Linked DNA regions of Homo sapiens. The protein of the gene in region 2 purifies or fractionates together with the protein of the main gene of each other region. This does not show direct contact. Each region holds a gene or a part of one and is shown on either strand. Other genes may lie near its edges. The genes, in order: TRIM24, NUP62CL, MAP7, FOXP1 and BPTF.

The links.
Region 1: the proteins of NUP62CL (region 2) and TRIM24 purify together in Homo sapiens (affinity purification with mass spectrometry; one large-scale study listed by BioGRID and IntAct). This does not show direct contact.
Region 3: the proteins of NUP62CL (region 2) and MAP7 purify together in Homo sapiens (affinity purification with mass spectrometry; one large-scale study listed by BioGRID and IntAct). This does not show direct contact.
Region 4: the proteins of NUP62CL (region 2) and FOXP1 purify together in Homo sapiens (affinity purification with mass spectrometry; one large-scale study listed by BioGRID and IntAct). This does not show direct contact.
Region 5: the proteins of NUP62CL (region 2) and BPTF purify together in Homo sapiens (affinity purification with mass spectrometry; one large-scale study listed by BioGRID and IntAct). This does not show direct contact.

The regions. Positions count from the first base shown.
Region 1 is NC_000007.14:138,583,906-138,590,078, forward strand, and holds the end of TRIM24 (transcription intermediary factor 1-alpha), read left to right. Parts: coding exon 1-94; intron 95-836; coding exon 837-1,046; 3' UTR 1,047-6,091; downstream 6,092-6,173. UniProt on the Homo sapiens protein: Transcriptional coactivator that interacts with numerous nuclear receptors and coactivators and modulates the transcription of target genes.
Region 2 is NC_000023.11:107,163,500-107,169,672, forward strand, and holds part of NUP62CL (nucleoporin-62 C-terminal-like protein), read right to left. Parts: intron 4,286-6,173; coding exon 4,150-4,285; intron 1-4,149.
Region 3 is NC_000006.12:136,539,418-136,545,590, reverse strand, and holds part of MAP7 (ensconsin), read left to right. Parts: intron 1-6,173. UniProt on the Homo sapiens protein: Microtubule-stabilizing protein that may play an important role during reorganization of microtubules during polarization and differentiation of epithelial cells. Associates with microtubules in a dynamic manner.
Region 4 is NC_000003.12:71,572,001-71,578,173, forward strand, and holds part of FOXP1 (forkhead box protein P1), read right to left. Parts: intron 1-6,173. UniProt on the Homo sapiens protein: Transcriptional repressor. Can act with CTBP1 to synergistically repress transcription but CTPBP1 is not essential. Plays an important role in the specification and differentiation of lung epithelium.
Region 5 is NC_000017.11:67,906,382-67,912,554, forward strand, and holds part of BPTF (nucleosome-remodeling factor subunit BPTF), read left to right. Parts: intron 1-3,200; coding exon 3,201-3,380; intron 3,381-4,495; coding exon 4,496-6,173. UniProt on the Homo sapiens protein: Regulatory subunit of the ATP-dependent NURF-1 and NURF-5 ISWI chromatin remodeling complexes, which form ordered nucleosome arrays on chromatin and facilitate access to DNA during DNA-templated processes such as DNA replication, transcription, and repair.

The DNA.
Region 1 (6,173 bases), on a different chromosome or scaffold from region 2:
AAGACTACAAGAAGATTATTCCATGTACTCAAAACCTGAAGATTTTGTAGCTGATTTTAGATTGATCTTTCAAAACTGTGCTGAATTCAATGAGGTGAGGCTAGGGGAGGGAAGGGGGCAGGAAGGAACAGCAGTGTGAAAATCATTTTATTACTAAACACCTTGTCAACATAGGAGACCAAGATGTCTGAGTTAGAATAAATTTCCAACTTTTCAGATCAGGGAATGCAAGAGATAATTCAGATAACTCTGTCCACATTTATATTCAAAGGTTTATTAGATGGTGATGGAAATGCAAATTACAGCTGATAACTGAAAGACAAAATGTTTTTCTCTGACCTAGACATATTCTTTATCATTCCCACCTGTATTTCTTATTTTTATGTTGATCTTGAAATATTAAGGATGTGGGCCAAATAGCTCTAATTTAAAAATTTCTCATCTGTCAGTTCATCTACACATCAGTCAGACTTAGAACCTTTTGCTGCTGGTGGTTTGTTCTCTGTTACTCATTCTAATAGTACTACATTTAATTTGTTCTAAAAATACCTGGTTCATGATCCTATGGTTATGGAATCCTAACTGATATGTGTTTGGCAATATAGTCCTACCATTACCACCTTCTTTTAGAATAATCCAGGCTTTTACTTTTATCTTTTTTCCACACTTCTGAATCTTTTATTTTAGCTGGCCTTCTGTACAGAGACTTTGTCTAGTCCTAAACTATTATTTCAATGACTATGCATGAACACTTTTCAAAACAGCTCATTAATATATATAATCTCAGAAGTCAAAAGTGTGTCCTTTTTTTACTCATTTTTATTTTTACTCCACAGCCTGATTCAGAAGTAGCCAATGCTGGTATAAAACTTGAAAATTATTTTGAAGAACTTCTAAAGAACCTCTATCCAGAAAAAAGGTTTCCCAAACCAGAATTCAGGAATGAATCAGAAGATAATAAATTTAGTGATGATTCAGATGATGACTTTGTACAGCCCCGGAAGAAACGCCTCAAAAGCATTGAAGAACGCCAGTTGCTTAAATAATATGCAGCACCACTAGCTTGTGCTGGTTTTTAGATTTTTTTGTTTTCAAAAAAACATTTGTCAGTAATTTAACATCACTACAAAAAGAAGAGTTTGTGACTATTCTCATCTCTGTTTTGGACGTTTACTAGACTTTGATTTCCTTAATAGCCCATTTCTGTTAACCTCTTATCACTAAGAAAGAAAGGAAAGAAGGAGATGAATAGAAGAAAGAAAATGGAAAGAAGGAAAAAAGGAGGATAGAAAAAGGATGGAAGAAAGAAGCATTGAAAACAAAGACATTCTTCCCACTTCTTGGATTTTTAAACCACAGTCTGGAGTGATAGCTACTGTAGAAAGGAAATAGACTTTGTATGAACTCTTTAAGTTGAAAAGTAAAAAATATATGTGGTTTGGATGTGTGCTTTAATTCAGCTTTAGAAATTAATACCACTACCCGTGAATTATATGGCCTGACAATATGAATTAGGTGTACTGTACTGAAGAACAGTACTCCACAAACATGGGTGGTAACAAGAGTTCCATCCCAGGAGGCCAAACGGTGCAACAGAAGGGTAGGTTAGATGCTATTAAGAAGGCACTTAATAGTACATCATGTAAGATGGCAACTGTATTAAAGAAAAATCCGGAAAACAAATGTTTGATTTTTGTTTTTGTTTTTATCTTGTCTGTAGAGGTATTTTGGTATAGCAGGTTTTCAAGGCCATTTTTTATACATTTCTAGATCTAGATTTTCAACTTCTTCCACTGAGGGAAGTATATACATTTGGGTTTGCTGTGTGTCTATGTGAGGTTTAATTGTACAGGTGATCCTTTTACAACAAGCCTCATTGTTTGCAGTATAGCTTTTAGTGGAACTACCCAAAATATAAATACAGCAGCGTGCACTGTATTTGATGTGAGGGTTCTTCATCATATACCCTACTGGGCATTAAATATAAGTTCCTCTGAAAGGGACTCGTTTTTGTGGTTTTCATCTGTCTATAATTTGGAATGAAAATGTGTTGTAGGATTTTGGGAGCAGGCAGCTGGGGGGAATTAATAGTGATTTTTTTTTTTTCCTGAAGCATCTATCTCATGTTTTTCTTTTGAGAGTCAGAACATCAAACTTAATCTTTGATCTGACTTCTGATTTTATTCTTCTGATTGATTGATAGAGGTACAAAAGACTTATCTTCTGAGGACAAGCATATTCTTAATGTGCCAGACCTACCCGGTTCAGCTGATATAGATAGATAGATAGATAGAAGAAAATTGCTGTGCCATACATTAATCCAGCATTTGACACAATATCTAAATGGTTTGCCGAAGTTAATCTGTATTTATAAAACATTAACTGGAGTAAATTTTTCTCCTTAGGATGATAGAATAAAAAGAGCTCACTTGAAAGAAGGCTATTATTTGCATTATATCACCTGCCATAAATTTAACATAGAAGACTTGGTTTTATCTACATGGCTTTACTTCTTAAAGTGGAAAATATCCTGTGGCTAATTCATTGGGTTTTCAGGTACTGCTAAAGATAAAATACAGGGAGAAAATAACTTGTTAGCAATAGATCCCCATTGTTTATATATATAGGTCTTGTTCATAATATGTCAATTATGTATTGTTAAAAAGTCCTACTCACTTTTCAAATATGTGTTACATGGTAATGTTTGTCATTGTTGTTTTAAAGTTGCATTTGACATTTGTTCTCCAAAGAGTGTTTGAACAGATTTTGATAACAGTGCATACACCTTTTGTCTTTTTTTGCTCCAGCATTTTATTTTTAGCACAGCAGCTGTGGAGCTTTTGCTGATAATTTTATTGTTGGTATCTTAGAATACTGTTCGTCTGACAGTTTATTCTTCCATACTTGTCTCCCAAGTTAAAACAGAGCAAAACAGATAAATTATTTTGAGAATCATCACAAAAGGGAGTTAGAACTTGTGAGACTAAAACTATAATTTCCTAAATGTGACTAATGAACCCCAAACTGTCACTATTACATTCAGTGCCATATTTATCTTTCAAAACAGTATTTGTTTCACCCTAACCATCTTTGGCTGAATGAAAGGCAGTTGAGAACCATCTTTTGGTCATACATAATATAATTATATTAAAAGTAAAGATCGGGGCTGGGCGCAGTGGCTCACACCTGCAATCCCACCAGCACTTTGGGAGGCCAAGGTGGGCGGATCACAAAGTCAAGAGTTCGAGATCAGCCTGGCCAACATTGTGAAACCCCGCCTCTACAAAAAATACAAAAATTAGCCGGACATGGTGGCGTGCAACTGTAATCCCAACTACTCAGGAGGCTGAGACAGGAGAATCACTTGAACGCAGGAGGCAGAAGTTGCAGTGAGCCAAGATCTCACCATTGCACTCCAGCCTGAGTGACAGAGACTCAGTCTCAAAAACAAAAAGTAAAGGTCTTGGGTTTCTCTCTGTAAATAGCCTTTGTGTAATGGTCTTTAGATTAATATCCTTTGACTTTATTAATAAGTACCTGTGTGCCCAGGTGGATCTCAGCTAAGTCATCCTTAAATTCTGTTCAAATAGAAATAAACCATAAAATGAGCCTAACTATAACCCACACTCACTTATCAAGCATTCCCCCAAAAGTTCAGTGCGATTCAGGTAACCTTGACCTAAACTTGTACACTCCGGTGTACATCTTTGACCATAAACTCTGGGAGATTTCCCTCTGGATTTGGGATCAGGAGCCCAGTAGGGCCCCATTGCTGAATGTTTATCACACTTCTGGCTAGGGCTTATGGATGAGCAGACCACGTAGGAGCTAGGATTTACTCAGTTCCACCTCACTGACAGCTTTTCTAGGTGCCAAGCAACTGACTTTTCCTGTGTAAGGAAGCCCAAGTACTTGACCAGTGATATATATGGCCATGGCAAAAGTATAAATGGATGGATGTAGACCATATTCAACGCAGAATACATTTTAGATCGGTATCTGGCATTGTAATCATTTTGTCTTTTGAATTAACATGCCCTGCTTGTCTTTTCTGAATGGAAGGGTAGGAAAGTGGAAGGTACTAAAAAGGAAAATGTAGTTTTAGTTTCTTTTCTAAGCTAAAGAACTGGCTTTACTACTGCTATATTTTACTACCACATAGTAGTGTAGATGTAGTATAACTTGCTTAGGAATGCTTTCAAAAAGGTTACCTCCATAGTCAAAAAAAGGGGGAGTATACAGCTGATTGTTGCATTTATGAAACTGCATTTCAATATGCTATGCTGTTACTGTGCTTAGACACTTCCTTACGTTTGAGTTCCAAGGAGAGAGAGTGAGAAGAGGAACTCCTTTTGCTGAGCTCTGGTCCAAATTAATGTGAATCCCCAAAGTAAATTGCTGCATATGAACAACAGGTTTTAGGTTTAAATTGAAGATACATTCATTTTATATGTATTTGTTGTGAATGAGAGAAATTGAGTGATCTGATTGGCCATTAAAATTATGGTGAATGGGTCGGGCGCAGTGGCTCACGCCTGTAATCCCAGCACTTTGGGAGGCCGAGGTGGGTAGATACCTGAGGTCAGGAGTTTGAGACCAGCCTGACCAACATGGTGAAACCCCATCTCTACTAAAAATACCAAAATCACCAGGGTGTGGTGGCCCATGCCTGTAATCCTAGCTACTCGGGAGGCTGAGGCAGGAGAATCGGCTTGAACCCAGGAGGCAGAGGTTGCAGTGAGCTGAGATCGCACCACTGTAGTCCAGCCTGGGTGTCAGAGCAAGACTCTGTCACAAAAAGAAAAATTATGGGGAATGGCCGGGCGCGGTGGCTCACACCTGTAATCCCAGCACTTTGGGAGGCCGAGGTGGGTGGATCACCTGAAGTCAGGAGCTCAAGACCAGCCTGGCCAACATGGTGAAACCCCACCTCAACAGAATATACAAAAAAATTAGCTGGGTGTGGTGGCGGGTGCCTGTAATCTCAGCTACTTTGGGATGCTGAGGCAGGAGAATAGCTTGAACCCAGGAGGTGGAGGTTGCAGTGAGTCGAGATTGCACCATTGCACTCCAGCCTGGGCAACAAGAGCAAAACTCTGTCTCAAAAAAAAAAAAAAATGGTGACCATGCGTTCAACCATATAATTTCTTACTGAAATTGAGCTCCTCCTTTTGAATAACCATGTACATATTTTTAAAAGTATTTTATAGCCCTATGTAAATTAATAGTTGATGTCTTTTTATAAATGTTTATTGCATATTCATCTTGAATGTGAATTTACTGTTGTAATTCACATACTGGTGTCATGTTTCTGAGTGAGAATAATGCTAGTCAGTCAGATCACAGATTTTTCTCCATGAAGGTTTTACTTATTGAGAGGGACATCTGAGGCAGTAGTCTTCGTCTTTAATTTTTGGGGGCAGATTGGTGCTTTGGTTTTAATAAAAACTAACTTTGATGGATTTTTACTGTCAATATTTTACCACAAGGATTTTTTAATAGAAAAATTACTGAATGTTACTTCAGCAGAGTTCTATCTACTTTGAGTCTCCATTACTACTACTGTTGTTCCCCTAGCTGTAACATTGATCCATATAGGGGCAAGCTACTAGTCCATAAATAGCTGTAATAGGAAAACAGTTTTTTAAAATTCTAACACGTGTATTTCACCAGCCTTAAAAGATTTAAAAAAAAATCTGACAGGAAGGAAAGCGGGTGGTAAGTATCTTGGATTATTCTGCCTCATACCAGCCACTCCCAAAGTAGGAGGACCAAAGATGCCATGAAGACTTCTAGTTGTCTGGAAGTTATTTGGGGAAGGGGGGAAAGACACAGAGTGGGGACCTTTGGAAGTCATTTTAAAAATTTAGCTATGTTAATTCCACTTGTAAAGTTTGAAAGGTTTTGATTCTTGTAATTTCTGAGAATTACTATGTTTTAAATTTACTATTGGATATTTAACAGATCTTTCATGGGGCCAACCTATTTGCTTCCTTAATTTTCAAATTAAGTCCTAATTTGAGTCCTAAAAAAATCTTTCCTTGTTAGTTGCAAGTTAAACATTTAATAAAATTATTTTCCCACGTTTTCACATGTGGTATGGAATAAAGGCTGTTTTAACATTCCCTGCGAGATACTTGGGAAGGTGGATTCTTTGCCTATGTACTAATGCC
Region 2 (6,173 bases):
TAACATGTGAATAGTTACCTTAAATATAAATGTGCTAAACATACCAATTAAAATACAGAGAGTGGAAGAGTGAATAAAAAATGATCCAACAATATACCGTCTATAAGAAATTCACTTCAAATACAAGGATATATTAATACATAGTTTGAAAGTAAAAGAATGGAAAGAATGTACCATGCAAGGTTCATTTTTTTAAAAAGAAATGGCTATATTAATATCAGATAAAGTGGACTACAGAACAAAGAAAATTACTAGAACCAAAGAGAGACATTACAGAGTGATAAAGGAATCAAGGCATCCAGAAGGCTAGCAATCCTAAATGTATAGGTGACCAAACAAGAAAGCCTCAAAATACATGAAATAAAAACTGATAGAGCTAAAGGGAGAAATAGAGAAATCCACAATTAAAGGCGGAGATTTCAAAAAGCCACTCTCCACAACTGAAAGAACTACTAGACAGAAAGACTCCAATAACACAGTATCTGAAATTACAGTGAAGCAACAGAATTTAATTAACATATATAGAACATTCCACCCTGCAGCAGAAAACACAATTTTCAAATGTCCATGGAACATTCATCAAGACAGACTGTATCCTCACCCACAAAACAAACCTAAATAAATTTAAAAGAACTAAAATCGTACAAAGCATATTCTAATACCACAATGGGATCAAAGTAGCGATCAATACAGAAAAAACAACAAGAAAATCTCCAAACACTTGGAAATTAAACAACACACTTCTAAATAATAAATTAGTCAAAGAAGGATTCACAAAGGAAATTTAAGAAGTATATAGAGCTGAATGAAATCACAATATAACATAATATGTAGGTCACAGTTAAGGAAGTGTTGAGTTGGGTATTTATAGCACTAAATGTGTACGTTAAAAAATAGGAAAAATCTCAAATCAATAGTCTGAGTTCATACCTCAACGAACTAGAAAAAGAGCAAAATGAACTCAGTGCAATCAGAAGGAAGGAAATAATAGAGTAGATATCAAGTGAAATTGAAAACATGAAAAGAATAGAAAATGATTAATTAAACAAAAGCTGGCTCTTTGGGAAGCGATCGATAAAATTGATAAAAGAAAGACACAAACCACTAACATCAGAAATGAAACAGGAATATCCCTACAGCCATTAAAAGGACAATAATGGAATACTATGAACTACTTTATTTTTAACAATATAAAAAATGGGCCAACTCTTTAAAAACAATACATTCATCAAAGATGAACTAGATAACCTGAATAGTTCTAGAACCACTAAAGAAATTGATTTGTAATTTAAAAGCCCCTTTAGCCTAAAAGCCCCTTTAGCTGGGCGCAGTGGCTCACGCCTGTAATCCCAGCACTTTGGGAGGCCCAGACGGGAGGATCACGAAGTCAGGAGTTCGAGACCAGCCTGGCTAACACGGTGAAACCCCGTCTCTACTAAAAATACAAAAAAATTAACTGGGCGTGGTGGCGGGTGCCTGCAGTCCCAGCTACTCAGGAGGCTGAGGCAGGAGAATGGCGTGAACCTGGGAGGCGGAGCTTGCAGTGAGCCGAGATCGTGCCACTGCACTCCAGCCTGGGCGACAGAGCGAGACTCCGTCTCAAACAAACAAACAAACAAACAAACAAAACAAAAAAACAAAAAACAAAGATTAGCTGGACGTGGTGGCGGGAGCTTGTAATCCCAGCTACTCAGGAGGCCTCGGCTGAGGCAGGAGAATCACTTGAACCTGGGAGGTGGAGGATGCAGTGAGCTAAGATCTTGACACTGCACTCTAGCCTGGGCGTCACAGTGAGACTCTGTCTCAAAAAAAAAAATAATAATAATAAATTAATTAATAAATAAATACCCCTTTAAAAGAAAGATACAGGCCGAGAAGTTTTCGCTAGAGAATTCTGCCAACATTTTATGAATTAACATTAATTTTACACTATTTCTTTTAGAAAACAGAAAACAGAATACTTTCCAGATCATTTTATAGAGCCAATGTTACCCTGATATCAAAACTAGAGACATAAAAAAAGACGAAAACTACAGACTAATATCTCTCATGAACTTAGATACAAAAGTCCTCAAACAAAATACCAGGAAACCAAATTTTTAAAAATGTACCAAAAAATTATACACCATGATCAAGTGGGATTTATTCCACATATGCAGGGCTGGTTGAACATCTGAAAATCAATCAGTGTAATCTACCACTTCACCAAGATAAAGAAACAAAATCTTAAGACTATCAATTGAGGCTGAAAAAGCATTTGACACAAATTGATTTTTGACAAAGGTGCAAAAGCAATTCAGGGGGGAAGATAGTCTTTCAATAAATGATGTTGGAAAAACTCGACATCCACAGACAAAAAAAAATTAATCTTGACCTAAACCTCACACCTTATATAAAAATTGACTCCAGTTGGATCACAAGCTCAAATGTAAAATGTGAAACTATAAAACTTTTAGAAAAACACAGAAGAAAAAGAAAATCTTTGGGATCTAGGGCTAAGAAAAGATTTCTTATAATTGACACTAAAAGCACAATTCATTAAAAGAAAATGTGATAAACTGTAACTCATTAATTAAAGGTTTTGATACAGCAAAAGGACCCTGTTAAGAGGATGAAAAGCCAAGTTACACAGTTAAAGAATATACTTATGAGCCACATATCTGACAAAAGACTGGCATCTAGAGTACATAACAAACTCTGAAAACCAAACAGTAAAAAAATCAAATAATCCAAGTAGAAAATGGACAAAAGATATGAACAGACATTTCACCAAAGAGGATCTACTGATGGCAAATAAACATGTGAAAAGACGTTCAACATCATTAGTCATCAGGGAAATGCAAATTAAAACCATAATGAGATATCACTTCACATCTGTCAGAAGGGCTCAAATAAAAAGTAGTGACAACACCAAATCCTGGCAAGAATGCAGACAATCTGGATCACCCATACATTGCTAGTGGGCATGTAAAATGGCACAGTACTCTGGAAAAGAATTTGACAGTTTCTTAAAAAACAAAACAAACAAAAAACATGTAACCACCATACCACCCGACAACTGCACTCCTAGGCATTTATCCCACAGAAATACTTATATTCATAATAAACATGTACATCAATGTTCACACCAGCTTTTTTCATAATATCCAAAAAACTGGAAACAACCTATATGTCCATCAACAGGTGAATGGTTAAACAAACCATGGTGCATCCACAATACCATGGAATACTACTCAGAAATAAAAAAGAACAAACTGTTGATGCACACGACAACTTGGGTGGATCACAAGGAATTATGCTGAATAAAAAAATCCAATCCCCAAAGGTCACATATATATGACTCTATCTGTACAACACTCTTGAAATGTCAAGATTATAGAAATAGAGAACATTAATTGTTGCTCAGGGTCAAGGAAAGGAGGGGAGTGGGTGTGGCTATACAAGGGTAACAGGAGGAATCCTTGTAGTGATAAAACTGTTCTGTATTTTGACTGTAGCAATATCAATATCTTGGTTGTGATATTATACTGTAGTACTGTTGAGATGTTATCATTGGAGGAAATGATATAAAGACCATACAGAATGTTGTGTATTATTTCTTACATATACATGTGACTCTACAATTATCCCAAAATAAAAAGCTTAATTTAAAAAATGAACAAATACTAGAGAGAAACATCATATACAGGCTCCAGAGCTTGACTGTCTGAATTTTAATCCTGGCTCAACCATTAACAAGTATGCGACTATGAGCAGATTATAAAATCTCTATATGCTCTTGTTTTCTCACCTATAAAATGAAAATGAAAATACTGCCTACCTCATAGGGTTACTGTGAGGATAAATGACATGATGCTTGTAATGCATTGTCATCTTGCTAAACATACACAGATTACATACACAGTAATTGCACAATAAGTGGTAGCTATTATTAGTAATAGTAATGATTCTATTATAATGATATTCAGAAGGTAAAGGTGTGCTGCTGTTTATTCAACTTCCTAAGCTACAGAAATCTTTCTCTTGACTGTTCCCTCAACTCAGTCATTTAGCTAACTTTCAAATATTATTCTAAAGTTATCCAAGCAAATGTCTTGTACATGATAAATAAAATGAAACACATGCAAGTTTTTAAATAAATAGGCTTACCTAACAGTTGAAGTATAAGGTACAAGGTTTTCAAACCCTCTTGATAACAGTTGGTTTTGGTTCACAGTAAAGCCACTGGTGATTGTGGTAGTAGTGTTGGTGGTGAAAGTGGCGGTGGTAGTCGTTGAAGTTGTAACTGGAAAATAAAGTGTATAATGTTAGTAAGAAATGAGAAATTTGTTTCATTTAAGCCTTGATCATTCAGATTTAAAATTATGGAGGCATTTTTAAAAATACAAATTTGAACTCAAAGATGCAGATTTGAATTCAACACTGTTGTAATATGAAATAATAAATGGCAGGCCAGGTACCTGGATTAACTTTCCAGCTGAAAATCCTGGATAAATTCATAGAAAAATAAAACTTCTAACCAGCCCAATAACCATGAAAGAAATCAAATCAATCCTCAAAATTCTTCTCATAAAGGAAACTCCAGTCCCAGATGCCACTGCTGGTAAGTTTTATGAAACTTTCAAGAAAAGAATAATTGCAATTTACAAAAGATCTCTGTACATCTATATCTTTGCATATTTACATGACTGTATCTGTGTAATTAATTCCTAGAAATAAAATTTCTAGATCAAAGTGTCAGCATGCTCTAAATTTTAACATAACTTGCCAAATTGCCCTATCTAAACAATTTTGCCAATTTATGTCCCTATCAATAGGAAAGAGTGCCTATTTCTTTATACCACAGCCAATACTAGGCATGCATTTTTGCAAACCCTAGTCAAAAGCCTCTCAAAGCTTTATCTACAGCCCAGACTCTCTCCTATATGTCTTTTTCTGTTACACCCCTATTAGAATGTCCTGCTCTCTATAGATAAAATCCTAAGTATACTTCATGGCTTGACTCAAATTCTTTGTTCCCCATATTTATCACCCACTTCTCTCCTACTCATAGTTTCCTTTGGTTTTCTAAATTTCTGCAGCACTTTTGGTTCTTACTACACACTGAGCACTTAATGAACAAGGCACAGAAAATTGTGGCTGCTAGGGCATTGGGAAGGTTTTATTTTCTTCTTTTTGGTTCTCTGCATTTTCAAATGTTCTTACAACTAGTAAATGCTGCTTCTGTAACAAGAAATATGTTATGAAAATATAACGTACATGATTGTTTGTTTTATGTTAGCTTTGCTTTCCCAATTAGCAATAGTTTCAGGTTAATGGCCACACTGGATAAATGCATAAACCATGGTGCCTGCTGCAAGCACTGACTACTCTGAGGGAGGCTGGCCTGAGGGAACATTCCTGCTGAGGGAACAAGCTCAAATACCCATTCTTTGTTCCAGATAACTCTGTCCTTTTTGTTCCTGGTTCAAAGTTGACTGGGCAGGATGGCCAACTGAAGGATGGGAAGCCATCCAATGTACTACTAGCAGCCTACCTGAGGGTCTGGCACAAAAAGCTCTAGTGAAACAGGATTAATATGAGTCAGAATTTCATTTTCAAAAATTTAGCAATACGGAAAAATCTGACTCTAGGCAGATACTGGGAAATATTTCCAAAAGTATAGAAGGAATCCAACTATAGGCAAAAAGACTTGATAGGACTGACAGAAGAAGGAGATGAAGTAGAAGTAAGGGACCATGAGCAAGTCACAATTAAGAATAAGGTACAGCAGGAAGGCAGAGAAAGAGGTAAGGAAACCAATGAGAAATTTAAAAAAAGAAAAAAGTAGACAAAGGGAGAATAACCGAATTATGTATATGCAATGTTTGATTTGGGAGGTCCCTAAAGCTGCCTTAAGAATAATCTTAAGTTCCAATTTCCTTAAGGTAACAGTGTCGTGGCAATGACTTTACTTGAATTCCACAAGACTCCATTTCCTTTTTGGCCACAAAGGTTCTTATGATAATTCCCCATTCTTTATGTTAGCCCTTGTGAGGGTAAAATGTGCACCACAGAGGAAGACCATGCCCAATCACAAAGAAGCCCAGGAGTCACTATGGTTAGAACAGTGGAGAGATTACAGATTGGATCTTGTGTGATATTCTTTACAACCATAAGTCATCATTTTATTC
Region 3 (6,173 bases), on a different chromosome or scaffold from region 2:
GATTGTTCATCGAAGTCAAATTGTGGAAGGGCTGAAGGCCAAACTGAGAGGCTAGTACATTTTTCTGGGGTAGGGTAGTGGGGGAAGTGTTGAGGATTCTTGAGAATAAAGGATATTGATTAAAGCAGGAATAATCAGGTAGTTCTGTGCCCATGAATCTTGAAATATTGATTGCAAGTTCTAACAAGAGCTCAGCTGTGCCTTTAGCTAATGAAAGCAAAGTTCCTCCCTCTGGGAAAGTCATTCTCTTCCATTGATTTTTTTTTTTTTTTCTTTTACTGCTTTGGGAAGGGTGCACCTGGAGGGATGAGAATGCATGAGGAATATCTGCCTAGCCAGATTAGCCAAATCTCTGGAGATCAATGAAGGGCTAGGTCTACTCAGCTGGTCCTCATTTCAAAGTAGCAACGTGGACTTGAGGATGGACTGAAGAAGAGTTCAGCGACATACACACCAACTTTGAGATTCCTGCAGAAATCCAGGCAGTCATTAGCATGGCAATAGGAAGAGACGATTAATTTAAGGTTCTGCAGGGGCATGTGTCAAAGGATTGCAGGTAAAAAGGTGACATATGAGACTTTTCCAAGTTTGAGTTTGGCTCATTGACTTATTGGAAAATATTCATGAGGAGGACCTGTTTTGTTCTTTACCCCAAAGAGATGGGGGGCGGGTCTTGCTATGTTGCCTGGGCTGGACTTGAACTCCTGGGCTCAAGTGATCCTCCCGGCTTAGCTGTTCGAGTAGCTGGGACTACAGGCATGCACCACTGTGTCCAGCAGAATCAGGTTTTGGTGGGAGAAACAGGAAAAAAACCTCTCTGCTTTAGACATGAAAATGTGTGGTACAAGAGAGATCTGTAAGTGGAAATGTTCAAAAGGCAACTGGAAGTATAGGACTAAAAGAGAAAAATAGAGGTCAGGACTCTGGGATTCACTCCATAAAGGAATAATAGCTGAAGGTTTGGGAGTGAGGAGAGCTCAGAAAAACCACAAAGGGGTGAGACGACCTGTAAAGCATGGGAGGAGGAAGAGCCAGCAAAGCAGACAGATGGAAAAGCACAGCTGAGCAATGTCACACCTGCTGAGAGGGATGGAGAGGTAAGGGATTCAAAGACTGATGAAGACATTTTATAAAAAGCTGTTGGTTTGGTTACAAATAGTCACTGACCAACCCCAGAAGAGGAATTTCAGTTGTTGGTGCAAGAGTTGGGGCTACATCAGATTAGAAGTGATTGTGAGATAAGCAGTTTGGGAAGAAAGGTAGCCAATTTAATAGACCCTCCCATAAAGCTTGCTGGTGAGAGGAAAAAATTACAAATCCTTGAATAGGCAGAGGGATTTTAAAAAATCTATTCTAAAATTTGCGTACAGTCCAGGTGCGGTGGCTCATGCCTGTAATCCCAGCACTTTGGGAGACCAAGGCGGGCAGATCGCTTGAGCTCAGGAGTTCGAGACCAGCCTGGGCAACATGGCAAAGCCCCATCTCTACTGAAAATACAAAAATTAGCCAGGTGTCGTGGCATACATCTGTAATCCGAACTACACAGGAGGCTGAGGCAGGAGAATTGTTTGAACCTGGGAGACGGAGGGTGTAGTGAGCCGAGATGGTAGCACCACATTCCAGCCTGGGCAACAGAGCATGACACCTTCTCGAAAAAAATAATTTGTGTGCAAAAAAAATTACGGATTTTCTTTTATTTTCTTTTTTTAGTTTTGTTGACTGTATAGGTAATGTAAGCACCACCGTTAACATTATCCCAAAGAGTCCTCTGCCTCCAACCTAAATTCCCTAATGCTGCACCTTTGTAGTGAGACTCTCTTCCTACACCTAACCCCTGGCAACCACTGATCTGTTTACCATCTTCCTAGTTTTGCCTTTTCCAGAATGTCATAAAAGTGGAATCATACATTGTGTAACCTTTTTTTCTTTTTTTTTGTGAGACGGAGTTTTACTCTTGTTGCCCAGGCTGGAGTGCAATGGCACAATCTCAGCTCACAGGAACCTCCTCCGCCTCCTGGGTTCAAGCGATTCTCCTGCCTCAGCCTCCCGGATAGCTGTGATTACAGGCATGTGCCACCATGCCCGGCTAATTTTGTATTTTTAGTAGAGATGGGGTTTCTACTAAACCCCATCAGGCTGATCATGAACTCCTGACCAAAGGTGATCCACCCGCCTCAGTATCCCAAAGTGCTGGGATTACAGGCGTGAGCCGCTGCACCCAGCCCCACATTGTGTAACCTTTTGAGTCTGAATTTTTCACCTGGCATCATGTTTTTGAGATTCAGGCACACTGTTGTGCATGTTAGGATGTGGTACATCCTTTTTCTTGATGAAGTAGTTTGCCATTGTATGGAAGTATCACAGATGGTTTATCAAAGAACATTTGAGTTGTTCCCGGGTTTTGGCAATTATGAATAATGCTGCTGTAAACACTTACCTACAGGTTTTTGTGTGAGCATAGTTTTCATCTATTCTGGGTAAATACCTAGGAGTGGGATTGCTGATTCATGTAACTGTATGTTTAACTTTATAAGAAATGGCCAAGCTTTTCCAGAGCAACTCTACGGTTTTACATTCTTACAAACAGTGTATGTGAGTTCTGGTTGCCCTGCATCCTCACTAATACTTAGTATCGTTAGTTTTGTTTGTTTTTAAAACTTTAGCCATTCCACCAAGTTCTTTGAGTAAAGCAATGTAATCACCTCAAAGTAAAATAGTGCCTTTTTAATGCTAACCCATGCTCACATGAATTAGGAAAGCCTGGAGGTGGTGTTGATCCCAGAGCCTAGGTATAATACGGAATTTATATTTGACTCTAATATCTTTATTCTCCTTCATTCTTTTTTCCCCACAGTATTTCTTTTTTTTTTTAATTTTAACACACCATTGCTTGCTTGAAGAGCCATAGTATCTCTTATTTCCTGTGGAGTATGCATTCTGAAGTTGATTATAGACGGAAGTGCCATTATATAGCACATTCCCTGCCAATTCAAGTTCTCTCTTCCTCCTTAATGGTCTCTGTTCTAATCCCTTGAGATATGGCTTTCTAGAACTTGGAAATAACTTGTTTTGTTGTTAGAAAGCTAGACATATTGTTCATATACTTTGTTTATTATCCTGATTAATTCCTTATTGGAACATCTTATATTGTCAAACTGAATACTTACCAGTTCTCAGATACAGTGCTTTGTAAAGCCTTGATAGTCTGTCATTGGACGTTTCATCAGTTGCTCATGGTCTAAGGTTCTGTAAGCTAAATGTGAATGGTATTTAGGCTTATACTTTTTTATAAAATTCAGTTTTAGGGTTTGTCTCGTTCTCTAGCGGTGATGTTGTCTACCTCTTTACTATCTTAGCTCTTGTAAAACTCTGAGTTACGGTTGTTGACACATTTAAATGGCATTTGGATTTTCTCTTCAGTAATTATTATTCTCTTTAGTATCTTTTTAATTTGAGAAATAGCCTGTTGAAAAAGATCTGTAAGATTTTTTTATTAGGTACCACTTTGAAATTTTTTTTAAATATATTTTTTGAGACAGAGTCTCGCTGTGTTGCCCAGGCTGGAGTGCAGTGGCACGAACTTGGCTCACGGTAACCTCTGCCTCCCAGGTTCAAATGATTCTTGTGCCTCAGCCTCCCGAGTAGCCGGGACTACAGGTGCCCACCACCATGCCCAGCTAATTTTTGGATTTTTAGTAGAGAGGGGGTTTTGCCGTGTTGGCCAGGCTTGTCTTGAACTCCTGAGCTCAAGCGATCTGCCCAACTCAGCCTCCTAAAGTGCTGGAATTACAGGTGGGAGCCACCACTCCCGGCTCCACTTTGAATTTTGATTTGAAGAGTAATATATAGTATTTGACACTGAGAAAAACTGCATTCAACTGTTCTTCATCCTTGATGCTCCTATAGAAATAGTTGTGAAAAAAAGAATCATGAGAAAGTGCCAAGGAGGATTGACACACCTGACCAGATGGCACAGAGGAGCACGGGGTATAAAACAATGCAGGGAGGAGGCTGGGAGCAGTGCACTTGGCATATGTGAGCTGCACTTCATAGGCACTGTTAGTAAATGATATATCTTTAAGTTTAGAGTATTGAGATTTGGGGTATCTTAAAATTTCTAATTCTGTGACTTTTAAAATTAAATGATATGTAAGCTTCCTTTTTGGAGTTGGCTTTCTAGTAAAGAGAACTATCCTTCACTATGGCATAACCTCTGAGTATAAAACTCATTTCCCCAACACTGTTGAATGTAGAAAAGTTCTCTAGGATCAGTTTAAATGTCAAGGTGAAGTTCTAGAAAGGAGCCCTTCCTTAGCACCTCCACCCCTCATCATGAAGCCTACTTGGTGGCAATAACATGCATAATAATTGGCTGTAAGATGTGTTCCTGTAGCAAAACTTTTGGCTGCTTCTCAAGATTCGAATCTGGGCTTCTGGTTCTCAGAAGCTCCTGACCCAAGCCTTTGGGGTGGCAGGCGCACCAGACAGGACCTGGTTGCTTACTTCTTGCATTCCAGCTGGACTGGTTTCTATTCATGGTAGATGCTCCAAATTAGTTCAGTGACAACTTCACCACAGGCGTGGTGGGTTCATTTAAATATGGGTCACTCCTTGACCCCAAGGTTATGTTGTTGAAATGATTATTGCGCCCATGTGCTGGAGTATCATTGATTCACATCATTGGCTCTCAATCTTGGCAGTGATTAAAAATCACCTGGGGACCATTTAAATATCAGGATGCCCAGGTGGCATCCAAGGTAATTATCTGAGAATCTTGCAGGATGGGAGTCAGGTGGCAGTGTTTTTAAAATTCCCCAGATGGTCTGGTGTGCAATCAGTGCTGAGAACTAATGATTCAGAACCATTTCCTATTGTATTCCCTTCCATTTGACTATTGTGGTGTGTGGTGTCAAGTGTGTGCACCTTGCTTATGGAAACCACATGGAAAATCGTAATAGCAATTGCCCTAAGTCTAGTGAGTTTACTCAGGTTGTCTCTTATTTTGCCCCAGGACTTTTTTGAAGGAAATATAGATGTGAATACAGTTATGAGTACAATTGAATAGCTAAGTATGCACACATATACTCAGTGTCCACATGTACGCACATTTCTGTATGAATATGTGCAGTGAGACAAAATACCATTCAGCTTTTGTTTTGACTTTGCCTAGCTCCTACACTGCCTTCCTCTCCCTCCTGCCCCTTAAAACCAGGAAAGGTTAAATTGGGGTAGATATTAAAGTATTTTGTAGAAAATTACATACTTTTCCCAGAGATCTTTCTAGTGACCCCTGACCTCTGATCACCAGGTCCCTGGCTCTGGAGACTGGACCTTGTTTCTTCTGTCTATAAATAGTTGACCCAAGTACGACCTTTTCCCTTCCGTGTGACCAGATGCTAATACCCTTCAGGCTAATCTTTCTTTCCTTCACCTCTCTTGTTTCTCCTCACCGCATGCTGCTGTGCCCAAGGCCCAGCTGGTAACCTCTGCGGTTTTTAATGTGCATTTTTTTCTCAGCAGGATTATTCAACTTGTGCTTTGATTATCACCTCAAATTGTCATCTCTGGCTCTACACACTGAAATGTCTACAGGCACTTCTGGTTTTGTTTTTGAGACAGGGTCTCGCTCTGTCGCCCAAGCTGGGATGCAGTGGCACAATCCTGACTTACTACAGCCTTGACCTCTTGGTCTCAAGCTATTCTCCTACCTCAGCCTACCGAGTACCTGAGACTACGGGTGCATGCCATCAGCCTGGCTAATTTTGTTTATTTTTTGTAGAGATGAGATTTCTCTATGTTGCCCAGGCGGGTTTCAAACTCCTGGACACAAGCAATCCTCCTGCCTCAGCCTCTGAAAGTGCTGGAATTATAGGCATGAGCCACCACACCCAGCTTACAGGCACTTCTGAGTTGCATTCGTGCCTGCTCCTGAGGTTTTGTGGTGCCATCTTTTGTGATTTGAAGCTTTTTCTGGGAGGGCTTACCTTTGGCAGCATGATTTCCTATCCTTTTCTCCTCTTTGCAGCTAGCATATGTCTAACTATGAAGTCCAAGGCAAAAATGAAGAGGTCAGTAGTGGATATTGGATGGGACTGATTCCTAAATAAGAGTATCTTTGATTTCTCTTTAAGATTATATGGAAACTGAGCATGTGTGAGGCTGTGAGGTCTGAA
Region 4 (6,173 bases), on a different chromosome or scaffold from region 2:
CTTTAAAATATGCAGAAATCACTTTCTACACTGAAGAACAAGGTGCTATATCATAACAAGGATACAGAAGTATAAAGCGCCTGTTAATTAAACATGGCTTTTTAACTCGCTACCCTGCATATGTAACTGCTAAGTTCCAAGCCAAGTCTTTAAATAAGAAAGAGAAAATGGCTAGGCTCCTTCAAATGAATGCTTTGCCTGTTTTTTCCCTTAATGTAAGAGATCAGCCACTTGATAGATTATTTTTTTTAATCAAATTCCCTGATAAATGGTTGAGGTTTTAAAGTTTTTTCCCCCAAAACACAGACAAATGAACAAATTATGAAGTTCCAGTCAGGACTGATGGTTTCTTATGAATCTGAAATTTTCAATGTACAGAGTGCTACTGGGTTTTAGGCTCAAATTTAAAGAACTTGTCTTGAATTAATATCCAGTATTTCAAAAGGTTCACATGGAAAAATCAATAAGCTATAGCTACATGTATCCACATGGATGAATTTTACTGTTGTTTATTTTTTAAAAAAGCAAGTTACTAAAAAACATATATAGTAGGATGCTATCAGAACAAACCTTGAACGTGCAAAACAAAATCCTGTATTTTGAGGAATCCTGTACATGCATACATATTAAAAATATGAAGAACTACACAAGATGAAAACCACCCAGCTGCGAACAGTGGTAAAGTAACCTCTAGGAAAGAAGGACAGAGGTAAGATGAGGATGGGATATTCCAGGAGCCTCTCCTACCTGAACCAGCAGCGTCTTCTCTCTTAAGCCGGGCTACAGGTACATGGGTGCTCACTGATTTACTCTTTGTTCCTTTTTTGTGCCTTACATATTTCACAATGAAAATGGAAACATATAAGCATACAGTTTTAAAATAAATAGCTTTGTAAATATCAGCCTGATTTCTTTTCTTAAAAAGGTAAGTTGAGTTGTTCTCAACTCACAGAACAAAATGCTTGAGACCAAGGCATCACACTCTATTCAGTAATTCGGACACTGGTTACAAATACTGAAAAACCCAGCAATCCAATATAAAATCTATTCATTTTCAAAAGTTCTTAGGATTACCTTATATTTAAAGAATTTTTAACCTCAGGAGTCTGCTGCAGGAAAGTCACTTCTAACAAAGAGATACTCTGTATTTAGTAAATGTGACTGTCCTGCTTCTTAAGCAAAACAAAAGCAAACACAGAAATGAGATTTCTCTCTAAGTATCTTTTTGAGTTGACATAAATACACACACAAGGAAAAATATGCAAGAAGCATACTTTGTGTGTGATTTCAGGACAAAAAGGTATCAGAAAAGGTGAACTTTCGCCAGGTGGAGAGTCCCTCCGTCCCCACCCCCACCCCATCCTCATCCCAGAATACTTAAACCTTTTGCTGCAGTTGCCATAAGGATAGCCAGACAAAAGGGAGAAGCACCCCCAGTCAGCAGCAAGGAGGATAACTTGCTTCTACAAGTATAAGAATTTGTTGTAAGCTTACCAAAGTTACGGCTGCGCGTTTACTGTCAACATGCATCACACTGCAACAAAAGCCATTATTTAGAAAATAAGATGAACACATTTAAGCAGCTGAACCCTTCTTAAACCCAGAGAAGGCATGCAAAACAACAGCAGGTCTGCAACAACATGCCTGATGGAGCCCATAAAAGAAAACTGGGGACTGAACGATTTTCTATTCTAATAGACCATTTTCTCCAAAATTATTTAAAGTTGCTTATGGACATAGATGTTATCTGAAGATGCCCCACCCCTCCTTCCCAAGGCTCAATCAACTAGCTTCTTTCCAAATAATTAAATGGGGCAAACTTTCTATTAGAAAATATCTACCATACATCACTAAAAAAAGGTCTGTCATTGATTCCCTAATGAAATATCAGTTAATTACTTAACCTTTCTTAATGAAATGATTAACATTTCAACAAACAAGGCGGAATGACTTCGCATCAAGCTGTAGATTACCAGTGACAGTGGTAACTATGTGTCCTCTACCATTGCGCCGTCTATTCTTTCAATCAGCTCCATGTTTCATCTTTTATAGAAATTCTTTATGCAGTAGTAGAGACACTCTACTTTTAAAATTTGGCCCATAAGAGTTTTTTTTAAGTGCCTCAGGGTCAGAACAGAAATTTTAAAAGTTTTTATTAGACGAATATCCCCAATGCTACCTAAACCTACAGAAAAGCAAACTGTGAAGTTCTAAACGTAAAAACAATTGCCAACTTTTTGGCAGCTATTAAAATAAAGCCACACCTAAAGCCAAAATGGAAATTAAAAATTAGGTGTGGGCATTATGGACACATTATTACCGGGTAACTTCAAAAGCCACATTATTAATACAGATGAAAAAATGTCTCAACAACTTTTATTTAAATAACTCTTTTGATCTTAGTGGTTAGATCTTTAGTTGAAGCCCTGAATATTTAAATAAGCCTCCTTAACATTTTATCTTCCTTTATTTCATAATCTTGTAGGATGCCTTCTTCTTAGGATTCTGGTTTCTTTATTTGTGTGGCATCGTTGGCTAGGCTATTTCCATCAATATTCGTGCATGCCCCATCACATACGATAGAGAATTTCCCAAGATGCTTGGGAAAATCAAAATACTTCTGCCAGCAGGGTTAATCCAAAGAGCAAACAGTTACAATTTTAAAATTAAGATGGAATACTCAGAAAAAAAAATTCTAGAGAGTCATCTGACACTAATTGGTAGCTACAGCATGACAACACCCATTGGGAAACATGGATGCAGGCAAGACAAAATTCAAAAGGAAATTATCTGATATTGACATTTGGTGAAAACCACCGATGTTCCAGGTTGTTCCTATCACGTTATTGAACTGTGAGGCTCTTGTTCTGCCTCTGTTTCTCTAAGTCTCCAAGGTTTCTTTTTGTGCCCTCCTGAAAAAGGAGCTCCGTTTTCTTCTCTTAGGTTTCACAATGGCCAACCAATTCAATTAAACTCTTAAGAAGGGTTGCAGGCTTTCCTCCAACTCTGATAATTGACAGGTCCAGTTTTCCCACTTTGGTGGGCATCAGGACCATGTGGGATGCGATTTAAAAACACAGATGCTGGCCCCACCCCAGATACGGCACATCCAGGAGTCGTGCAACTGTGTCTGTGTTGGGAACAACAGCTCTGCTGTGATTCCAATACTCGTGCTTGGTTAAAAACCACCGTTTTTCATTCGTAATAAAAATCCAAATACATTAAAAACAACACAGGATGGGCCTCAAGGTAAAATCAAAGAAATCATCAGTAAAATCCAAGTGAAGATAGAGATTTCAGTTCCACACATCTGAAAGAATAAATCACTTGATTCACAGGTCTCTAGCATGCATCAGAATTATCAAGGGAAGTTTGTTATAAATGTACGTTACCATGTCAATCAGCAAAAATTCTGACTCAAGGATCTGTATTTTAATAACCTACACACACACACATACACACACACACACACAGATACAGAGGTAGGTGAGCGAGGACCTCACTTTGAACCAGGCTGAATTAGGACCAACTGCAACCTCCCTTCACTTCAGACATGAGCATTCACTTCCATCTCTGTGCTCACCCCCAGGAGGGGAAGCCACCAGTGCCACTGGTCATCAGGAGGTAGGCACCAGGGCAAAAGAAACTCAAGCAAAACTCACATCACACCCTCCCCCAACAAAAGCTGCGGTCACTGTCCTGAGAGCACCAAGAATATCTTTTAAAAATGTGAGTAATAACAAAGCCCTGTATCATTGGATCCCTAAGCTCAAAGAACATATGTTAAAATATTACCCCTAATTCAAAAGCAGGGAACCTGGAGCAGAGAAAGTCACATTATGACTCAATTGCACAGCTGGGAGGGAGAAAGGACACCTCGGAAATTCAGTTTGATGCTAGAAATATTCTTCAGTGTCCTAGTAAACAAAGTGAATCACAAAATTAGCTAAAATCAGAGCATCTGGTAAAATGTGGATGTCCACCTGACTTACAAGTAATAAATAAATATATGTCCAAACATAAAACTCAGAGAAAATGTTTGTCCTAAGCAAATCTATTCTATTGAACATAAACAAGGCCCAATAATCCCACATTCAGATCCATTTTTCCCTCAGTAAATTGTCCTATAACATGCTAGCCTCTGATATCTTCAAACTGTTGAAATCAAACAGAATGACATGGGCTTTCTATTCAATGATCCCATTTCAGCTATTTATCTGAATTAGCAGCAGTTTGAGGAAATACACTCATCACAACATGATTCTGAGTATAGAGAAGTAAATAGTAAACAGAACACTGGAACACAACTGTGTATGTATTCATATTCCTTTTTAAAAAAAAAACTATTTTATTAAAAATACAATTTGGAAGGAAAGTGCAATTAGCTTTGCACAGGCACTGCTGAGATGTTCCCGAACACAGCAGACATATGTAAATATTTCGTGATATCAGTTCCATTTGAGTAGACCTGTCAAGATATTTACAGGGCTTGACAGTACTTCTGTCTTTAATTAAATTTTTGCCCAGATACTTTAATATAATTTAAATAGATTATTAGTTGTCAGAATCGAATATAAATTTTGTTTACGATTTAGTTACTTTAAGTACTCAGACTGAAGGAACTAATTTAACCCTACAACTGAGCAGCTTTAAGCATCAAGGCCAAACCACTAGAAAGCTCCCACTGCCCTTTGCACTCTACCAATAACCTTAAATTATTACAACTGAATTGTAAATTTCATGGCACTAAACTGAGCCCCCCTCCCCTCCTTTTGAAATAAAACAGCTTGGGGAGGGTCATGAGGAAACACCCATTTACACCTGTTCAGGTACTAGGTAGGTTCTCCCTTTCAGGCACTCGTTCTCACAGCGGCTGGCTAGATAGGAAACATTTTTTTCTCACTCTAAGTCCCATAAAATAACTACCGAACAAACACCTGTTGTGTACAAGGCAGGGCATGTATTAAAGACTGGCATCAGGGCATTGCAAAAAGAAAAACAAGCCTTGCAGAGACATCCACAAGCCAATCTGGTCAATAGATTTCACGACTGGGTAAAACAACAGTGCGTGCGAAGAACACAGCTTCTGGCACAACCTTCTTGTGAATGGCAGCTGACTTCTAAACAAGGATTGAAAAATGCCTTAGCACAAACTGACTGTAATTAATAAGAATAATTTATTAAAGAAACAAAGAACACTGTCTAATTGTCTTTCCTGACTGCCATGCACTTTCCCCCATTGTACTTCCTCTTTGCAGAATACCAGCCTCGTAGCCCTAACTGTAAGAACATTATCTATGGGATGCAAAACCAAAACACTTCTAGAAATCAAATATTCCTTACAACATTTATTTTTAGGTTAGCGACACAAGCCAAATCTGCTTAATTTCCATTAAGCACATGGTCACATGCTCATTGAAATAAACTACAAACGTCCCAGGAAAAAAAAAAAAGGAAAAAAACTATCATGCAGAAGATACCCCAAATTTCGCCAGGTTTGCCCGTTTCAGGAACTTGCCTCATCTCAAGGCCTGCTGGCATTCCAGCTTTTGGAGCCTTTATCCTTAATTCATCCAAGTACCGGAGAAGAGAAATATGTTGAAAAATCAGTTTAAGATGGTTCCTTGGATAGCATATGTATAGCAAAGTGGCCTGCAGAGTAGAGTAACAAATGACAAGAAAGATCATTAAAAAAATGCATGGGCCCAAGTGCAAACCTACTTGGCTTGCTGGCTTGTCTCACAAACTCAATGTTTGATCACCTGGTGGGACTAACTACCATCAACTTAAAAAAAAAAAATCCCCTGCAAATAGTAAAAGTATACATTGGCTCAGGTATAAAGTTCACCTGTCTATTCAGCAGATGCCTTTCTTGAGGTTATTTTCTTTAGAAAACAAACCCCTACCTGCTTGAGAGGTTTATATACTCTAGATTCAAAAAAACACATTTAAAAAGAAAAAAAGAAGGCCAATATTGCTGGTATAGCAAAAATGGCATTTACTATGACTGAAATCTATAAAAGAAGTGTGACATCTGACAGGATAAGGAAGAAAGGAAAAGCCCTTAGCAAAAAGAAAAAAAAAATTAAAAACAAAAATACCACCTGTGTAAATCTAGCCATGCTCTGGAAACCCTTTCTCGGTCGTGGAGAAGAAACAGCTCATGCTGAATG
Region 5 (6,173 bases), on a different chromosome or scaffold from region 2:
AATAAGCTATTAATTGAGTTTTTACAACTGGCTAATGAGCTTTAGTATTTAGAATCACCGAACTCTATAGAGATGAACTGCTCTTTTAAAAGATCATGTGTTTTTAAACTCAAGTTCAATGAGCCGATTATTTCACGAGGGTGCCAGGTGACATAGTGAAGACCACATATGCACAGAGTGATAGAACGCTGGCAGGTCCCAAGCCCTTTTCTGTGATTCTTCTCTTACCTCACCACTATCCTGCTCTTGACAGGATTACGGTTTCTTTGCACTCTCTTCTCTTTCTTCAGCCAGACCTTTCTGGAAGAAATCATTCATTTAAATTAAAAATAGATATATTTTTTATATCTATTTTCTCACACCAGTATCTTGCTCGCGACAGAATTATGATTTCTTTGCACTCTCTTCCCTTCAGCCAGACCTTTCTGGAAGAAATCATTCATTTAAATAAAAAATGGATATACCTTGCTAGGTCCTTGGGATATTTAGGTTCAAGTGAAGAAGGTAAAGAATAGGAAAATGCCTTTAAGTCCAGGTGCCATGGCTCACACCTGTGATGGGATGCCAAGGCAGGGGAGGATCAGTTGAGCCCAGGAGTTCAAGAAACAGCCTGGGCAACATGGCAAATCCCCATCTCTACAAAAAATGCAAAAATTAGCCAGACATATTGGTACACACCTGTATTCCCAGTTACTCAGGAGGCTGATGAGGGAGGATCGTTTGAGCCCAGGAGTTCAAGGCTGCAGTGAGCTGAGATGAACCCACTGTGCTCCAGCCTGGGTGACAGAGCAAGACACTGTCTCCAAAAAAAAAAAAAAAACCTTTAAGTCCCAAGAATATTCATCTAGACAGTAGTTCTGTTTTGGGAGGCTTGATTTTTTTTTTTTTTTTGTAATTATTATGGGAAATTTAAAACTACACAAATACAAAGAGAATAATGAACTCATTCAGCTTCAACAATTATCAAAGTTTATCACTTTTTTTTTTTTTTTGAGATGGAGTTTTGCTCTGTCACCCAGGCTAGAGTGCAGTGGCATGGTCTCAGCTCACTGCAACCTCCACCTCCCGGGTTCAATCAATTCTCTTGCCTCAGCCTCCCAAATAGCTGGGATTACAAGTACCCGCCACCACGCCGAGCTAATTTTTGTATTTTTAATAGAGACGGGGTTTTGCCATGTTGGCCAGGCTGATCTCGAACTCCTGACTTCAAGTGATCTGCCTGCCTCGGCCTCCCAAAGTGCTGGGATTACAGGTGTGAGTCACTGCTCCCAGCCAAATTTTATCACTCTTTGTTTAGTTGTCACTGACCACTTTTTTTAATCCTGCAGTGTTTTAAAATAAATCCCAGAAATCATGTTTCACCAGAAGTTCAATATGTATCTCTACGTAGACATTTTTCCATAACCATCATGTCATTATCACACTCAACAAATTAACCGTAATTAACAAATTAATAATCTGATTCTCAGTCCATATTCCACTTGCCCTGGTTGTCTTAGAGATACCTTTTTACTGTAAGCAGTAAACAAGGCCACAGATTGCCTTTGATCCTTTTTTTCAGTCTTTTATTCTGTTATATAAACTTCAAGGAGTCCAAGAACCATTGAAATAGATTACAAAAGTTTATATACATACTTTTTTCCTTGGTAGAGGATCATAGCATTTATCCATTTCTAATAGGGTTCTGTGACACAAAGTATGTTAGAAACCACTGATATGGGCTTTCTGGAATGATCAAATAGATTGTGATAATCCTTCATACACGAGTTTTCTTTCATTTTATTTTTTTATGTGTGTGACAGAGTCTTGCTCTGTCAGCCAGGCTGGAGTGCAGTGGCACCATCTCAGCTCGCTGCAAACTCTGCCTCCCAGGTTGAAGCAATTCTCCTGCTTCAGTCTCCCAAGTAGCTGGGACTACAGGCTCGTACCACCATGACTGGCTAATTTTTGTATTTTTAGTAGAGATGGGGTTTCACCTTGTTGGGCTGGTGTTGAACTCCTGGCCTCAAGTGATCTGCCTGCCTCAGCCTCCCAAAGTGCTGGGATTACAGGCATGAGCCACCACACTCACCCAAATTTTATCACATTTGTTTCAGTTGTCACTGACCACTTTTTTTTTTTTTTTTTTTGAGATGGAGTCTCACTCTGTCACCCAGGCTGGAGTGCAGTGGTACGATCTCAGTTCACTGCAGCCTCCAACTCCCAGGTTCCAGCGATTCTCCTGCCTCAGCCTCCTGAGTAGGGATCACAGTTGCACGCCACCATGCCTGGCTAATTTTTGTATTTTTAATAGAGGCGGGGTTTCACCATGTTGGCTAGGCTGGTCTTGAACTCCTTGTCCTCAAGTGATCCGCCCACCTTGGCATCCCAAAGTGCTGGGATTACAGGCATAAGCCACTACACCCATCCAAATTTTATCACTCTTGTTTCAGTTGTCACTGACAATTTTTTTTTTTTTTTTTTTTTTTGTTGACACGGAGTCTCACTCTGTCGCCCAGGCTGGAGTGCAGTGGCGTGACCTCAGCTCACTGCGACCTCCGCCTCCTGGGTTCAAGCAATTCTCCTGCCTCAGCCTCCTGAGTAGCTGAGATCACAGGTGTGCACCACCACACCCAGATAATTTTTGTATTTTTAGTAGAGATCGGGTTTCACCATGTTAGCCAGGCTGGTCTCAAACTCCTGACCTCAGGTGATGCACCCACCTCGGCCCCTCAAAGTGCTGGGATTACAGGCATGAGCCACCGCACCAGCCTATAGTATTAATGTTTATCTTGTAGCTGACTATGTTACTGAATCACAGTTTTTTGTTTTTTTTTTAATTTTTGGACACAGAGCCTCACTCTGTCACCCAGGCTGGAGTGCAGTGGCATGAGCCACCGCACCAGGTCCCCCCCCCCCTTTTTTTTTTTATCCTGCAGTGTTTTAAAACAAATTTCCTAAATCATATTTCACCAAAAATGTTCACAAAGTTTTCTGAAATGTCTGAAGTTCAGGCATTCCTTCTGTGTTTTAGGTCAGCCAGGCATATAGGATTATATGGTACCTTATACTCAATAAGACCTTTGTCTTTTTTTTTTTTTTAAATGAAAAAATGAAACATAACTTGCTGGAAATTACTTGTTTATTTTCACTAAACTTGACATATTAAAGTGCTAATACTCTGGAAATAACGTAAATTATCGTTACATGGTTCTTTTTAGCCAAAAATAATATGGATGAAAATATGGATGAGTCAGATAAAAGAAAATGTTCACGAAGTCCAAAAAAAATAAAAATAGAGCCTGATTCTGAAAAAGATGAGGTAAAAGGTTCAGATGCTGCAAAAGGAGCAGACCAAAATGAAATGGATATCTCAAAGATTACTGAGAAGAAGGACCAAGGTAAGGAGAGTCAGCTGTGGAGGGCAGCCTGGGGGTGATAAGAATGCACTGGATCAGGGTCCCACCACAGGAAAGGTACTGCGTTGTGTTTTCTTGATAACAGCTTTATCAAAACATAATTGATATCCCATACAATTCACCCAATTAAAGTGTAAATTCAGTGGCTTTTAGTATATTCACAAAGTTCAACCATTATTACATCAATCTTAGAACATTTTCATAACCTTGAAAAGAAGCCTCATTCATACCCATTAGCAGTTACTTCCCAACCCCTCCCGAAAGTGCCACCAGCTTAGTGGTCTACTTTCTGTCTCTCTGGATTTGCCTATTTTGGACAGTCCATAGAAATGGAATCAGACAATATGTGGTCCTTTGTGGCTGGCTTCATCCACTTAGCATGGTTTTAAGGTTCATCCATGTTGTAGCATTTATCAGTACTTTCTTTTTGTTTCTGAATAATACTCTGTATGGATATGCCACATTTTGTTATCCATTCATCAGTTGATGGACATTGGGCTGTTTCCTCTTTTGGCTATACGAATAATGCTGCTATGAACATTCATGCAGAAGTTTTTTGTGGCCATGCGTTTTCACTTCTCTTGGCGATATACCTAGGAATGGAATTACTGGATCATATGGTAACTCTGTTTAACCTTTTGAGGAACTACATTGTCTTTTGTAACAAGTCATTTTTAAAAAAAAACTAGATAAGCTAGATAATGCATGTGGCTAGAGATACTTTAAAAAAATATTTTTGGCTGGGCGTGGTGGCTCATGCCTGTAATCTCAGCACTTTGGGAGGCTGAGGTGGGCGGATCACCTGAAGTCAGGAGTTCAAGACCAGCCTGGCCAACATTGCGAAACCCTGTCTCTACTGAAAATTCAAAAATAAGCCAGGCATGGTGGCACATGCCTATAATCCCAGCTACTTGGGAGGCTGAAGCATGAGAATTGCTTGAACCCAGGAGGCGGAGGTTGCAGTGAACTGAGATCATGCCACTGCACTCCAGCCTGGGCAACAGAGTGAGACTCCATCTCAAAAAAAAAAATATATATATATAAATTCCTCCTTTCAGAGTAAAAATTACATTTATATAAATGTCTTTGTTTCACAGATGTGAAGGAGCTCTTAGATTCTGACAGTGATAAACCCTGCAAGGAAGAACCAATGGAAGTAGACGATGACATGAAAACAGAGTCACATGTAAATTGTCAGGAGAGTTCTCAAGTAGATGTGGTCAATGTTAGTGAGGGTTTTCATCTAAGGACTAGTTACAAAAAGAAAACAAAATCATCCAAACTAGATGGACTTCTTGAAAGGAGAATTAAACAGTTTACACTGGAAGAAAAACAGCGACTCGAAAAAATCAAGTTGGAGGGTGGAATTAAGGGTATAGGAAAGACTTCTACAAATTCTTCAAAAAATCTCTCTGAATCACCAGTAATAACGAAAGCAAAAGAAGGGTGTCAGAGTGACTCGATGAGACAAGAACAGAGCCCAAATGCAAATAATGATCAACCTGAGGACTTGATTCAGGGATGTTCAGAAAGTGATTCCTCAGTTCTTAGAATGAGTGATCCTAGTCATACCACAAACAAACTTTATCCAAAAGATCGAGTGTTAGATGATGTCTCCATTCGGAGCCCAGAAACAAAATGTCCGAAACAAAATTCCATTGAAAATGACATAGAAGAAAAAGTCTCTGACCTTGCCAGTAGAGGCCAGGAACCCAGTAAGAGTAAAACAAAAGGAAATGATTTTTTCATCGATGACTCTAAACTAGCCAGTGCAGATGATATTGGTACTTTGATCTGTAAGAACAAAAAACCGCTCATACAGGAGGAAAGTGACACCATTGTTTCTTCTTCCAAGAGTGCTTTACATTCATCAGTGCCTAAAAGTACCAATGACAGAGATGCCACACCTCTGTCAAGAGCAATGGACTTTGAAGGAAAACTGGGATGTGACTCTGAATCTAATAGCACTTTGGAAAATAGTTCTGATACCGTGTCTATTCAGGATAGCAGTGAAGAAGATATGATTGTTCAGAATAGCAATGAAAGCATTTCTGAACAGTTCAGAACTCGAGAACAAGATGTTGAAGTCTTGGAGCCGTTAAAGTGTGAGTTGGTTTCTGGTGAGTCCACTGGAAACTGTGAGGACAGGCTGCCGGTCAAGGGGACTGAAGCAAATGGTAAAAAACCAAGTCAGCAGAAGAAATTAGAGGAGAGACCAGTTAATAAATGTAGTGATCAAATAAAGCTAAAAAATACCACTGACAAAAAGAATAATGAAAATCGAGAGTCTGAAAAGAAAGGACAGAGAACAAGTACATTTCAAATAAATGGAAAAGATAATAAACCCAAAATATATTTGAAAGGTGAATGCTTGAAAGAAATTTCTGAGAGTAGAGTAGTAAGTGGTAATGTTGAACCAAAGGTTAATAATATAAATAAAATAATCCCTGAGAATGATATTAAATCATTGACTGTTAAAGAATCTGCTATAAGGCCATTCATTAATGGTGATGTCATCATGGAAGATTTTAATGAAAGAAACAGCTCCGAAACAAAATCGCATTTGCTGAGTTCTTCAGATGCTGAAGGTAACTACCGAGATAGCCTTGAGACCCTGCCATCAACCAAAGAGTCTGACAGTACACAGACGACCACACCCTCAGCATCTTGTCCAGAAAGCAATTCAGTTAATCAGGTAGAAGATATGGAAATAGAAACCTCAGAAGTTAAGAAAGTTACTTCATCACCTATTACTTCTGAAGAGGAATCTAATCT